2 linked regions of the Homo sapiens genome follow. The protein of the gene in region 1 purifies or fractionates together with the protein of each later gene. This does not show direct contact. Each region holds a gene or a part of one and is shown on either strand. Other genes may lie near its edges.

Evidence for each region. Proteins that work in one complex are often made in the same cells at the same time.
Region 2: the proteins of SLAMF7 (region 1) and PTCD2 purify together in Homo sapiens (affinity purification with mass spectrometry; 3 studies listed by BioGRID and IntAct, with this or other methods). This does not show direct contact.

What each region holds. Positions count from the first base shown.
Region 1 is NC_000001.11:160,734,508-160,742,282, reverse strand, and holds the start of SLAMF7 (SLAM family member 7 isoform a precursor), read right to left. Parts: upstream 3,037-7,775; 5' UTR 2,982-3,036; coding exon 2,927-2,981; intron 1-2,926. UniProt on the Homo sapiens protein: Self-ligand receptor of the signaling lymphocytic activation molecule (SLAM) family.
Region 2 is NC_000005.10:72,330,078-72,337,439, forward strand, and holds part of PTCD2 (pentatricopeptide repeat-containing protein 2, mitochondrial), read left to right. Parts: intron 1-1,180; coding exon 1,181-1,298; intron 1,299-4,940; coding exon 4,941-5,019; intron 5,020-5,716; coding exon 5,717-5,808; intron 5,809-7,362. UniProt on the Homo sapiens protein: Involved in mitochondrial RNA maturation and mitochondrial respiratory chain function.

The sequences.
Region 1 (7,775 bases):
GTCTTTGCATCAGGAGGAGTCAGCTGTGAGATTTCCTCTGTAACAGGAAGGGATAACAGGTCCTGCCCTTTGTCACCTTCCTTTCCTCTTGGTTGTCACCTCCTCCCCTGTCCTGTCCCCTAGAGTCTCAAGAGTTGAGTGGAGGGAAGGAGCCCGATTATGAGGAAGATACATTATCAGTGCAGCCAGAACCAAGGGATGGTGATAAAGCAGGAAGACTTTGGGGGAGGGGAGAGTGGAAAAGCCTGCCTCCTGCTTGCCAACCCCGTCCCCAAGCACTTCTCTGAACACTTGGTGCCTCTGTCCAAATGTAGCAGTGTGTTGTGGCACTCTCCTCATGAAAACCATGAACCAGAGCATCTCAGAGCTTGGAGGAGTCTTAGGGATTACTTAGTCCAATCCCATTTCACAGATAAGAAGGCTGATATTCAGAAGGTTATGGTGATGTTTCCCAAACCAGTGGAAGGCCAGGATTAGGAGCCAAGGCTCCTAAGGCAGGATTTCACAGACTGTGCCCCATGGCGCCACCTTTGGAGGCTGTGGCAGTGCCTCAGTGTATTTCTTGGGAGCTCAGGAGGAGGTTTAAGGGGTGAGCGTAGGATAGGAGGCTATGGGACTTGCTTCCGTTAGGCTTCAACTCTATACATTGGAGTCATTTATTTGTTTTTTTCTGTGTAAAATTTCATTCCATAAAAGGAAACCATGGATTTAAAAAAAAAGGCAAAAAAAACCCAAAGTGGTTTGAAATCTATTGCACTTTACTCAAGTCCCCCTTAACGAATGTACTCACGAAAGAGCAGTGTAATTCAATGCCACACAAGGCAGCCACAGACAGAGGCTTGAAAGTTTCCCGCTTCACCACACACCTTTCCCATCACTCTAGCCCTAACCGACCACATTCACATTTAGGTTGCTCACCACTCTGCTCCTCACTCATCTCCTGCCCCCTCTTCCTTGTTTCTTCTGGTTCTTTTCAACACTCTCCCAATTCCCCTCACCCACTTTTTTGTTTTCTTTTTATTGATTGTCTCCTTGACACTACTGTATCATCAAATCATTGGCAGATTACTGTGCCCATTTTTCAGATGAGAATACTGAGGCCATGAGAACTGCTTCATGGACCCTCTGAGTTTAGCCAGGGTGGCCCCCTGTTGGTACACCCATATCCCAGAAACAGAGCTACCCGTTCTTCTCGGGCCTTTCCAGTTTCTACCTCAGATTTATGTACCTGGAGAGGGAAGAAACCCCAACTGGTACTCCCTGAGGAAGATTCAGCTCAAATGCACATGTAGTGAGCATCTCTTTGGTGCCAGGTCCAGTGATAGACGGCTTGTTATGATTAAAAGAGCACTAGCTTTCTAGCTTTCTAAACTCAATCTCTGGCTACCTTATAAATGCTGTGTTATCTTGCCCAAGAAGCGTGATCTCTCTGCTGAGCCTAAGTTTCCTCAACTGTAAAACAGGGATAATGATATCTGTCTTACAGACTCATGAGGAGGTGGTATGAAAAACACCTGCGATGTAGTAACTTAATAAATGGTGATTATTTTAATAATTATTTTGCATTTGATATGTCATTTAAAATGTCACAATAATTCTGCAACTTAGATTTCATTCTCTGTTACACACCTGAGAAGAGCAAGGCTCAGAAGGGAAGAGTAATTTGCCTACAATAATACAGCTACTAAGTCAAACCAAGGATGCGCTTGTCCAGTGCCAGGATTTGTTCCACTGCCCTGCCCACTGGAAGTTCCAGGACAATCTCTGTCTCCTTTCAGCCTCAGGAGGTACACTACACAGGCTGCCTCTGGAGGAGGGCAGAGGGGGACCTGCATGGCAGTTTTTCATACTTGTGCTCTTTCGCTGACTGATTTCAGATGGACACCTGTAGCTTTCAAAGTCTCTATAATTTTCCCCAACCCCTCCACCTTATCTCCCTCAAGTTCTATTTCTGCTCATCATTTCCGTTCAGGGAGTTTTTTTTTTGTTTTTTTTTTTTAAAGTGAGGGCCTATTCCAGAACCACCTGGTTAGACCCAGGTACCTCTCAAAAATACAAACTTCTGATGAATTCAAAGTGGGTAAGAGTCTGCTGATGCTGACCACTTAGCGATGCAGGGGAAAATATTGGGGGCACCAGCTGCCTGCGTGGTCTTGGGCAGATCACTCCAGGCAGGCTCAGATACACATAATGAAGCAGTTATGTGAAGTCCTTATAGGGGGACCTCATGGTAGTACTCCATGAGATTGATGACAGAAGAGATATTTCTCACTTATAGGGCTCCTGATCCTTTCTGAGAGCCCTTAGGATAGAAAAATCTTCAAAGACTAGAATACCAGTGACAGGTGGAGAACTGTCCTCTGTCCTCCATGGGATTAAACATAAAGTGCCTATGGTATGAGTTGGTTCTCTAAGTAGAGACTGATTACATTGCTTGAGTAAGGAAAGAAAATTCAAGTGATTCTTTCCATTTATATTACTGTTATGCATAACCAATTTTATAAATACATTTATAAGTAAATAAATACATACCTGTATAGTATCATCTTGTTCTTAAAGTTGCCCTCAAAAGGAGAGAAGGCTAGAAGATAAAGTTTCTGAGGCCCAGGAAAACTTTAACATTCCTTATCTAACTCATGGCAGAACCTGGATTAGAAAAATGGTCTCTGATACCCAGCACCACTTCTTTCAGCTCCTTCATCCCTGGGACAGTCAACAGGGGAGTCAGTTCCCAGAGCCATTTTTCCCCCTCTCTCTAGTCTCTTCCTGACCTGAGAATCAGAGATCAGAGATTGATAAAAAGCAAATGTTAGATGAGAACACAGAGCCTCCCGAGTTGAGCCAGAGGCCCAGAGTGGAACAAGAAACCTGGAACTATTCAGGATGGGGTAGACAGGAGAGTGGAAGAGAATCCGGCCGGACTCACCTGTGAGCTGCCAAAGGATATAGATGAGGGTGAGGCATGTTGGGGAACCAGCCATATTGCTCTCTGGAAGTCAGCCACTGAAATGAAGCCACTTCCCTCTTAGGTATTACTCAGACCTCTTCCCCAGCTGATATTTAAAGAAGCAGGAGGGGTCACGCCGCAGACATGTGAGATTGAGTAATTGCTAAATTATTTTCAGAGTGAATAGAGCATTTTACCTTGCCACCAGCAATCTATGAGAGATCTATTTGCTCCCCATCTTCATCAGCATTTGGTATATTCCCATTTTATATTTTAGCTGTTTTAATAGGTGCTGTAGTGATACCTCATTGTGGCTTTAATTTGCATTTCCCTAAAGCCTAATAATGTTGAACATCTTTTCATGTGCTTATTTGCCATCTATATATCCATATCCTCCTTGGTGAAATGTCTATTTATGTCTTTTGTCCATTTTATAATCAGATTCTTTATTTTTTTTACTGTTGAGCTTTGACAATTCCTTATATGTTCCAAGTATAAGAGTCATTTGTCAGATATGTGGTTTACAAATATTTTCTCTTGGTCTGTAGCCTGTCTTTTCATCTTCTTAACGGGGTCTTTGGCAGAGCAAAAATTTTAATTTTGATGAAATTCAACTTATCAGTTTTTTTTCTACCCACACTAGGGTCCAAAGGTTTTCTCCTGAAAGTTTTATAGTTTTATGTTTTACATTTAAATGTATGATCCTGTTTTAATGTAAGGTGTGAAGTTTAGGTTGAGATTCACCTAAATATATTGTCTATATTCATTGAGAACCATATCAGGTAATATGGTTGACAGTTTTTTTTTGCTTTCGACACTTGAAAAGTGTCATGACACTCCTCCCCTCCATGGTTTCCAGTGAGAAATCAGCCATCATTTAAATTGTTTTCCCTATAGGTAATGTGTCATTTTTCTCTAGCTGTTTTAAAAGTTTTTTGTTTGCCTTTGGTTTTCAGAAGTATGATTACAATGTGCGTGTTTTTTTTTCTTCTGCCTGTGGGTGTTCAATTGTTCTACTACCATGTGATGGAAAAGATGATCTTTCCTACATTGAATTACTTTTGTATCTTTATCAAAAATCAGCACTTATACTTGTGTGGGTATATTCTGGAGCTATCTATTCTATTTAACTGACTTACATAATGTAATTATTTATATATCAGAGCTTAAGTTTGCCATGTTATTATTTTCTCTTTGTTCTTCTGGGCTTTTGTTTGTTTATTTTGTTCCTCTGTTTCACTTTCCTGGCCATCCTGTGTGTTACTGGAATATTTTTTATAATTCCATTTTGATTTATCTATAATGTATCTTTTTGAAGAGTTTTTTTACTGGTTGCTGTACATATTGCATTTTACATACATAACTTTTGATCTACCTATCAGTGTTGACATTTTACCAGTTGAACTAGGTATAGAAAACTTACCTATATTAGGTTTCTTTATTAGTCTATCTTTATACTTGTCTTAAATATATTGTCTATATTCATTGAGAACCATATCGGTAAGATTATAAGTTTTGCTTCAATTGTTGAACATAATTCAGAACACTCAAGAGGAGAAGGACAATCCATTACATTTACCCATATTTTAACTCTTTTCATTGTTATTTCTTTATTTCTAATGTTTCAAGTTTCCTTCTTTTTATTTTTTTTTGGACGAAGTCTTGCTCTGTCATACAGGCTGGAGTGTAGTGGCATGATCTTGGCTCACTGCAATCTCCGCCTCCTGGGTTCAAGCGATTCTCCTGCCTCAGCCTCCTGAGTAGCTGGGACTACAGGCTCATGCCACCATGCCCACCTACTTTTTGTACTTTTAGTAGAGATCAGGTTTCGCCATGTTGGCCAGGCTAGTCTCAAACTCCTGACCTCAGGTGATCCACCAACTTTGGCCTCCCAAAGTGCTGGGATTACAGGTATGAGCCACCACACCCAGCCTTCAAGTTTTCTTCTTTAATCATTTCTTTCTGTTTCAAGATATTCTTTAGGAATTCTTTTATGATAAGCCTGCTGATAACAAATTATCTTAGTTTTCCTTCACCTGAGAATGTCTTGATTTAACCCTCATTCCTGGGTATAAAATTCTAGGTTGACAGTTTTTTTTCTTTCAACACTTGAAAAGTGTCATGACACTCCTCCCCTCCATGGTTTCCAGTGAGAAATCAGCCGTCATTTAAGTTGTTTTCCCTGTAGGTAATGTGTCATTTTTCTCTAGCTGTTTTAAAAGTTTTTTGTTTGTCTTTAGTTTTCAGAAGTGTGATTATAATGTGTCTTGGTGTGAATTTCTTTGGGTTTCTCTTATTTGTGATTCATTGAGTCTCTTGAATCTGTAGGTTTTTACCTTTTGCTAAGTTTGGGGAAATTTCATTATTTTTTGAATACTTTTTTTTCAGCCTCACATTCTCGCTTCTCTCCTAAAATTCTGATGACATGAATGTTATAAATCTTTTGTTTTTCTCCCACAGGGCTCTGAGGCTCCATTTTTTTTTTTTTTTTTTTTTTTTTTTGGCCTATTTTCACTCTGTTTTCAGATTGGGTATTTTCTATTGTTTATCTTCAAGTACACTGATTCTTTCCTTTTTCATCTCCATTTTGCAATTTTTTATTTTTTTATTTTTTCTGAGACAGAGTCTCACTCTGTTGCCCAGGCTGGAGTGCACGATCTCAGCTCACTGCAACCTCTGTCTCCTGGGCTCAAGCGATTCTCCTGCCTCAGCCTCCTAAGTAGCTGGGATTACTGGCACCCGCCACCACACCTGGCTAATTTTTATATTTTGGTAGCGACAGAGTTTTGCCATGTTGGCCAGGCTGGTCTTGTACTCTTGACCTCAGGTGATCCGCCCACCTTGGCCTCCCCAAGTGCTGGGATTGCCAGTATGAGCCACTGGCCCTGGCCTCCATTTTGCTATTAAGCTCATTAAACTCATTCAATTAGTTTTACCTTTCAGTCATTGTATTATTCAATTCTAAAATTTCCCTTTGGTTCTTCTTTATATCTTCTACTCTTTTTTTAAAGACTTTCTAGTTTTTTTGTTTATTTGTTTTAAATGTGTTCATAGCTGCTAGTTGAAGCATTTTTACTATGGTTTCTTTAAAATCCTTGTAAGATAATTCTAACGTCTGTGTTGTCTTGGTTTTGGTGTCTGTTGATTGCCTTTTGTTCATTCAAGTCAAGATTGTCCTGGTTCTTGTTATGATGAGTGATTTTTGACACAGTGATGATAAGGTAGGGGACCACATTACTGCTGAGCAGTGGTAAAAATCCAGACCCTCCATTTGGCCTTTTCTGACACCACCCAAAGCAAGAATTGGGAGGAGTGCCTCATTGCTTCAGGGAGGGAGTGCATGTTCAGTCTTCCTACTTAGCCTCTTCTGATGCCACCCCAGTGGGGAGTGGGGAGTGGGGAGGGATGATTCCTTACTGCCAAGGGGTGGGGTGGGGGGTTTAAATATAGGTTTTCCACTTGGCCTTTGCTGTTGGCGGGGGGGTGGTGTCCCATATTTCCACATGATGTTTGGCTAGAATATGGTGATTATTGTTTAAAGGCTTCTATTCCAGCAGTCCCCTTTCCAGTCTTTTGGCAGGAGAGAACAGAAAATCCTTGGGATTGGCGTTTCTAGATTATATTCTTATCTAGCACATGGCCTACAATACACAGGGGACAAAAAGAAAACACGGGTAACTCATTGTCATGTCATTCCTCATGTCCAGAGGCTCCTTGCCCCCCTTCATCTCTCAACTGTTTAGAATCTTCTTGTGTTTGTGTTTTATATATTATGTCCAGGATTTTTTTTTTAAAATTTGTAATTAGTGGCAAGAATAGAGATAAATTCACTCACTCCATCTTGTCTGTAATTTCTCATGTCTGATCACATGTTTTTATATCCATTCTCTCCACTGACTTGATTGAAATAATGGTCAAATCTTTTAAAAAAGACTTCCTGTCAAGTGGCAAAACGAATCCATGTGGACTTGAAAAACACAGTAATGATAGATAAAGCATTTTCAAATGTATTAAAATGTATGGCCTTGCTCAAAACTAAGGGAAAAATTTCTGTGAATGAGAAACAGTGCAGAAATCCACAGCACATGGAAAGGGAGGGCATATGTGCTAAAAGGAGCCTTGATACACAAATCCTGCAAATACAGGAAAAGAAAATTACACGCCAGCATCACTTATGAAGATAGTTGCAAAGATCCTAAATGACACTTTAGCAAATCAAAGCCGTTGGCATATAAAAACACACCATGACTAAATAGCATTTATCCCATGAATGTGAGAATGGGCCAATATTTCAAAAATTTATCAGCATAGTCCATCACATTGATTAAATGTAAAACAACATATGATCATCTCAGAAGACATAGTAAAAACTTTGATAAAAATATGGATTCATAATTTCAAAAATGTTTAGTAAACTTTGGCAAACATCATACTTAATGCTGAACCTTTAGAAGAAGTAGTATCAAAGTCAAGACTAAGACAAGGATTTCTCTAGTCACTGATAGTATTTATTAATTACCTGGTGTCTTGGCCAAAGCAATGAGACAAGAAAAGTAAAGAAGATGTAACTGGATTAGAAAGAGAGACAAATAATTGTTATTTTCAGACCCTATCACTGTGGATGTAGAAAATCCAAAGGAATCTGCAAACAGTGAGAACTAATAAGAGACTGAGCATAATGTCTGACCATAATTGTAAACAAGACATTTTTCTAACTTGGGTCACAGGTTGACAACTTGTTTACTAATATTGACCTTATTTTCTTAAGAGCCAGAGAGGTATTTTCCCCAAAGTTACACAGCATTTTATTAGCACAGCCAAGCCAGAA
Region 2 (7,362 bases), on another chromosome or scaffold:
GCCCGCCACCACGCCCGGCTAATTTTTTTTTTTTTTGTATTTTCAGTAGAGACGGGGTTTCACCATGTTAGCCAAGATGGTCTCGATCTCCTGACCTCATAATCCGCCTGGTTCGGCCTCCCAAAGTGCTGGGATTACAGGTGTGAGCCACTGTGCCCGGCCTATTTGTAACTTCTATAAGTGGATAATGAAATGTATCAAAGTACACCTCATCATTCTATTATGGTATCATTGTAGTATATGCATTTAGAATAGACTAGCGTAATACTACTCTGACTCCTCGATGATTTTTAGCAGAAGGTAAAAAGTATCCTGTTTTATCATCAGCGCTTCTCCCCAAGGTATTTTAGATTCACTCATTATATGAATCTAAATCTGAAAGAAATATGAATATGAAGATTCTTAATGAATAAGTCTTTCTAAAATCTGATTTATGTGTAATCATGAGGTGTTGATTTTGTCATATATTGTCCTCTTGGTGTCTAAAGCAAAAAGAATTGGTTATTGAAAGTAAATTTACAGTAGTGATATGCAGTTCTGACTGGCAGACTGGCTGCCTGTAGAAATCTCAAGCCACATAGAAGACATCATTATCTTTGAGATTAGCCTTTTCCTAAAACTTAAACATTCAAAACCACATTTAATTTGTTTAGCCAGGTGATCATAGCCCAGGTGTACCTTTCTCAAGCTTAGAAAAGCAGAGAGTTGCTGTAAATTGTAAATGTGACTGTTGGTTGTCTGCCATCCTATATGAGGATGAAACCAGCCTCCAGGAGCACAGAGCATCACCCCCACTTCTTTCCCTTGTTCTCCTCTGGGTGGGGCCCATTCTGATGCACTTACAGATGCTACTAGACTCCTGCTGTTTCTTAAGGTGTGCTCACACTCAGTCTAGGGGTTGTTTCTAAATTTAGAGAATGATTACAACATACGTTTTTCCTCTGTTTCTTTTATTTTATGTCAGTCTGCTGTAAATTCTGTTTACTTGTTTAAATGATTGGTGTACTTCTGCACTCCAGGATTCCTGATTGTCTGAAATCTCCATTTCTCCCCCTCCAGACTGTGAGAGGACTTCGTTCTCTGTTGTGTCCCAGTACCTGGCACAGTACCTGCCATAGTCTGTGTCTGTCCTTTTTCCTGTGTCCTACCTTTTGGCTCATTGAATCATTTTCATTACCAGGTACCATGCAGAGAACAAAAATTTCACTTTGGGGGAGTATAAATTTGGACCGCTTTTTGTGAGGTTGTGTTACGAGTTGGATCTCGAGGAATCTGCAGTGGAGCTCATGAAAGACCAGGTTATTGTTTCCTAATTGTTTTCTCTGCCAATGTGTGTGTTTTTGGTGATATTGGAAAAGGCATGTCTTCTATGTACATTATTCCTGGGTTAGATTTTCAAAGAAAGGCTGCTGGGGCTGAATGAGCACATCTCTGCATTTTTAAGTTTCCTTGCAGTCAGTTTGTGTGAAGGGGGGTGGAGTAATATAGAACAAGTGTGGAGGAGGTATAGGTACAGATGATCCTACCTTGGATGTGTATCAATGTGGGTTGTACACCTGCTTTTTTAGGGGCTTTCAATAGAGAAGAGCTTAAGACAGTCTCCATTTAAAGACTGACATTCCTATCCTTTACCTGTATTCCCTCTCGATTTTGTATTTGTATTTTTCTGGTTGAAGACTACATTTGGGAAGTGCTTTTCTATTTTCAAAATACTTTCCGTCACATATTCTGACTTTCTGTTCCTAAAAACAAAAGTAAATAATTATTTTTACAGCTACTCATTGAATATTTACTATGTCTTCAGCATTGTGTTTAAGTACTTTAAATGTTTCATTTTATTTGTTTCTCACAATAGCCCTGATAAGGTAGATTTCCATTTTGTAGATAAAGAAACTAGGACCTAGAGACATTATAAATTCATTCATTCATTATGAAGTCATTTTGATTACTAGATGCCATGTAGAGAACAGAAACATCACTTTGGGGGAGTGTAAGCTTAGACTGCTTTTCATGAGGCTGTGTTTCCCATAATCAGAAACATTTGCTAAATTTTGGGGCCACGGCTGGCCACCAGGTACCTTTTTGTATATTTAGGAACTTACATAACAAGTTGAGTTGTTCTTCTGCCTCTTACTCTTTTTTTATACAAAATTTTCTCTGTACATGGTGGGCATGTTAACTCTAGACTTGCTCCTATTTAATGACACCTGTGTATTAGAAAGATACCCATAATATATTAGTAAGCAGAGAAAAGGTTGTTTCGGAACAGTACAGATAGTTTGATCCTGTTTTTTTTTGTTCCATAAGAAAAGACACATATTAACATTAACATTTTAACAAAATATAAATACATAGATACTGGAAAGATAGACACTAAATCACTTTATCTTTAGGGGGTAGAATTATTAAAAATTCTCACTTTTTACTTTATACATTTTTGTATTATTTGACTATTTTTAATAAACATATGTTAATGTTTCAGTTAAAGGAAAACAAAAGCTTCCCACTGTAATAAATCATAGCCATGAGTATGGTGATAAAAACAAAAATAAAAAAGATGAAAGCAAACGGGTTTTTTTTAGCCTGCTTGTATATGAAAAAGTCATGTATAGGTAAATTTTCTGGAGTAGAATGGACAAATTCGAGTAAGTGACATAGGACCTAATCCTGCTTCTAGCCGAACTTCTCTTGTTCCCTACTTACAACCCTGTAGTGTTGCCAGCATGGTAGCCACATGGAGTCATTGAACTGTGGCTAACTCAAATTTACATGTGCTGTAAGTATAAAATATATGATGGATTTTAATTACTTGTTATAAAAAGAATGCAATGTATGTTAATTTTTATATTGATTACATGTTGAAATTACATCTTGGATATAGTGGGTTAAATAATTTAGTCTATTTCTGTTTACTTTTTTAAATGAGGCTAATTGAAAATTTAGAGTCACATACATTGTGATTCTAAAATATCCTTGGTGACTCAAAATGCTTTTCCATTGGCTGGGGCTGCTCTGGTGGCTTTCCCTCACACTTAGAAGAAAACCCAGACCCTTGACTCTGACCTAGGGGGCCCATTGTGCCATCTCCCCTTTCTCCCTTGCTGACTTCACTCTGGACCTGCATGTTCTTCCTCAGCCATGGCGAGCTCACAGCCTCTAACTGGAACATTCTGCATTCTTATCCTTGAGGCTCCCTCCTTGACCTCACTGAGGTCTCTTCTCACAGTGCCTTCCCTGACTACCTTCCATCCATCTTCTCTACTTGCTCTTCATAGACTTTACTAATAGCTGAAATTAATATTTTTTTTCACTTGTCTTATTCACTGTCTTCTCCACCAGAATTTAAGCTCTACTAGATTATAAACCCTAGTAGGGTTTTGAGCAGGGTGTATATCCTGTTTATCATTTCTTTATTCTCAGCACCTAGAACAGGGTCTGCATAGTAGGTGATCGGAAAAGAGTGAACTTGAGCAAGGCATTTAATGACACATTTGAATACCATGTGTCCCATTATCATGGCACACAAAATGTTGAGATGTTAGCAAGATGTTGGTCAAAGGATACAAAATTTCAGTAAGATGGAATAAGTTCAAGGGATTTCTCTGTACAACATAGTGACTATAGTTAATGACAATGTATTGTATTCTTCAAAATTGCCTAAAGAATAGGTTTTATGTACTTTCACCACACAAAATGAGTATGTGAAGTAATGCATATGTTAATTAGCTTGGCTTAGCCATTCTGTAATATATACATATTTCAAAACAACATACTGTTTTTTGGGGTTTTTTTTGGATACAGGGTCTTGCTCCGTCACCTAAGCGGGAATACAGTGGCACTATTATCATAGCTCATTGCAGTCTCATAACTCTTGGGTTCAAGTGATCGTCCTACCTCAGTCTCCCAAGTAGCTAGGATTCCAGCCTTGTGCCACCACACCCAGCTAATTTTTTAAATTTTTATTATTTTTTTTAAGAGATGGGATCTTGCTGTATTGCCCAGGCTGGTCCTGAACTCTTGGCCTCAAGTGATCCCGCCTCTCCCTCCCAAAGTACTGGGATTACAGGCGTGAGCCACCACACCTGGCCAAATATATACAATTTTTATTTGTCAATTAAATAAATACATACAGACAAGTTGGAAAAAAATGTTGAGAACCACTGTTTTGGAGAATTATTTCAAAAGGCGAATAATCAATTCTGTATTATCCGTTGCCAAAAAAAGACCATAGTTGTGTGAGACCCTCCTGCCTTAGTCCTCAAGTATATTTATAGCTGCCATTTCATGTTAATAGCTGGCACCTAGTTTCCAGGACCACTCTGCCAGGGTTAACTGGCTAGTTTCTTTTCTCCTAAGCATGACAAATGACGGTTCCTTAAAGACGTCCTTCATGGTAATTATGAAACCCAGAGATCTCTTGCTATACCTCTCAGCATGACAGCCAAGAGAGTGGACAGCATTTTAACTTTTTTCTTTTTTTTTTTTTCTTTTTGAGACGGAGTCTCGCCCTGTCACCCAGGCTGGAGTGCAGTGGCGTGATCTCGGCTTACTGCAGCCTCCACCTCCTGGGTTCAAGCAATTCTCTGCCTCAGCCTCCTGAGTAGCTGGGATTACAGGTGCCCACCACCATGCCCAGCTAATTTTTGTATTTTTAGTAGAGACGGGGTTTCACCATGTTGGCCAGGCTGGTCTTGAACTTCTGACCTCGTGATCCACCTGCCTTGGGCTCCCAAAGTGCTGAGATTATAGGCGTGAGCCACCACGCCCGGCCAACTTTTCAAAAATAAAACCTGGGTATATAAAATATATTAGAGAATTCAGAAGGCCAAATGAGTAAAGCATGCAGAATAATAAGACCTGGCTAGATAAGAGACAGTAAAAGTACCTCCTCAATAAATAGTTTTAACTTTTAACCAAACTGTATTGTTCTTCTTCGTTAGCATTTACGAGGTTTCTTCTCAGACTCCACATCATTCAATATTTTGATGGATATGTTATTTATCAAAGGCAAATATAAAAGTAAGTACTGCAATTTCTATTTGCTGAAAAATTCTGCCATGTTTGCTGGCATAGGAACTAGGGGGAAAAATGAGTCATGCAAAAATGATTCTTCTGTAATCCCAGCACTTTGGGAGGCTGAGGCGGGTGGATCATGAGGTCAGGAGATCGAGACCATCCTGGCTAACAAGGTGAAACCCCGTCTCTACTAAAAATACAAAAAATTAGCCGGGCGCGGTGGCGGGCGCCTGTAGTCCCAGCTACTCGGGAGGCTGAGGCAGGAGAATGGCGTGAACCCGGGAAGCGGAGCTTGCAGTGAGCCGAGATTGCGCCACTGCAGTCCGCAGTCCGGCCTGGGCGACAGAGCGAGACTCCGTCTCAAAAAAAAAAAAAAAAAAATGATTCTTATATCCCTGATAAGTGGCTGAATTCTGGAGACCTTAGGAAGTTTGAAAACATTGCATTGCATGTCATCCCTTAAACTAAATATCCCAGATTTTACTTATGCTAAAATTGTGAAGCAGCTTTTAAAACATTAGTTCTTCCTGTTTGACTTGATAGTTTATTTCAACATTTAGTTAATTGCTAAATGACTTTGAGGAATAGCTTTTATTTTGTTGAAATACACTTTTCTGTAGATGGTGCTGAACAGATGAGAGCTTTGGGGGCCAACAGTAGAGGAACTCTAACACTGCGATCCACTCTTCACTTTTGGCAGGTGCTTTGCAAGTATTGATAGAGATGAAAAACCAAGATGTGAAGTTCACCAAAGATACCTATGTTCTTGCTTTTGCAATTTGCTACAAACTGGTAAGACTCTTTCCTCTTAACTTTGAGAGCATTGTGTGTAGTCTTTGAGAGAGGATTTTTCTTCTCTCTACAAATAAAATTCAGTTCCTCTGAAATCTGTTTTCCATCTGGTGCAAATGTTTTAATTTTAAATGTTTTTATTTTTAGAAAACTCAAGTTAGCCATATCAGGCAGTTTTATGGGAAAAGTAATTTTTTCATCTTTCACTCTTCTCTGGTGATTGTGTAGATAGTGAGAACAAGAGGCAATGTGTTGGGTTCAGGCTCTGCTTTAAAGTCATCACGCATGCTGGACTCTGCTAGATCCATCTTCCCTGTTGTCCTTGTCTATGGAAATCTTAGCTTCCTTCATTGGTGAGCTCAAGGACTACTTTGTCCTCATATGTGAAGGCTTTTGCAATCACCGAAACTGGAAGTGATGTTTGTCACCTCCAGATATCCCTTAATTTTGCTCTATTTGTGTCACCTCCCTGGTACTTCTGACACAGCTTAATGTACTTAGCAGATGCACGTTCCATTCTCTCCACTTGAGTGTGAGCTCCTTGAGGTTTCTTTGTATCCCACCACCTAACACAGTGCCTGGTATCCAGTAGTTCTTTAATAAACGTATGTGACATGAAAATGAAGTCCAAGGACAGAGACCATGACTTATACGTTCTTTTATCAATACAAAAAATTAGCCAGGCGTGGTGGCATGCACCTTGTAATCCCAGCTACTCTGGAGGCTGAGGCAGGAGAATTGCTTGAACCCAGGAGGCAGAGGTTGCAGTGAGCCAAGGTTGTGCCACTGCACTCCAGCCTGGGTGACAGAGTGAGACTCTGTCTCAAAAAAAAAAAAAAAAAAAAGTTATTTTATTATTACTGTACCAGGATTATTTCTTGCCCATAGAAACTCTTTCTTCAATGTTTAGTGAATGATCATTGAAATAGTGAAATGATCAATGTTTAATGTATTACTGTTGTCATTCGTATCACTTAAACTTTGGAAACCTGGCACACAAAACCTCTTTATACTGAAAACAAAGGAACATGAAGCGAAGTAGAAGAACATGGGCTGTTGAAAAACTCCCCTGAAGAATGTAGCAATACCAGTTTTCCAAAACAAGGGGATAGCTGGGTTATAGTGGAAAGAAAACCAAGTGGAAATTGAGAAACTTGGAGTCTAGTCTCAACTTTGGTATTATATAGCTTATATATATGACTTATATAGCTGTGAACTGATCACCTATCTCATTTTACAAATGAGATGGTTAGATTTGGGAGTCAGCAAACTTTTTTTATGAAAAGCTAGATAGTAAATATTTTAGGCTTTGGGGGCCACATATGTCTCTGCCTCATGTGATCTCTGCCCCATATTCTTTGTTTTTGTTTTTACAGGCCTTTAAAAATGTTAAAGTCATTCTTAGCTGTAGGCTACATTTAGCCCAAGGGTCATAGTTTGCTGACCTCTGGATTCAATAATTCTTTCCATTCATACCATTCTATGATTCTAGGAGGCCAAAAAAAAAACACCACACAGCACTAGAGCATCACTTATTCAGCATTGAAATTCCCA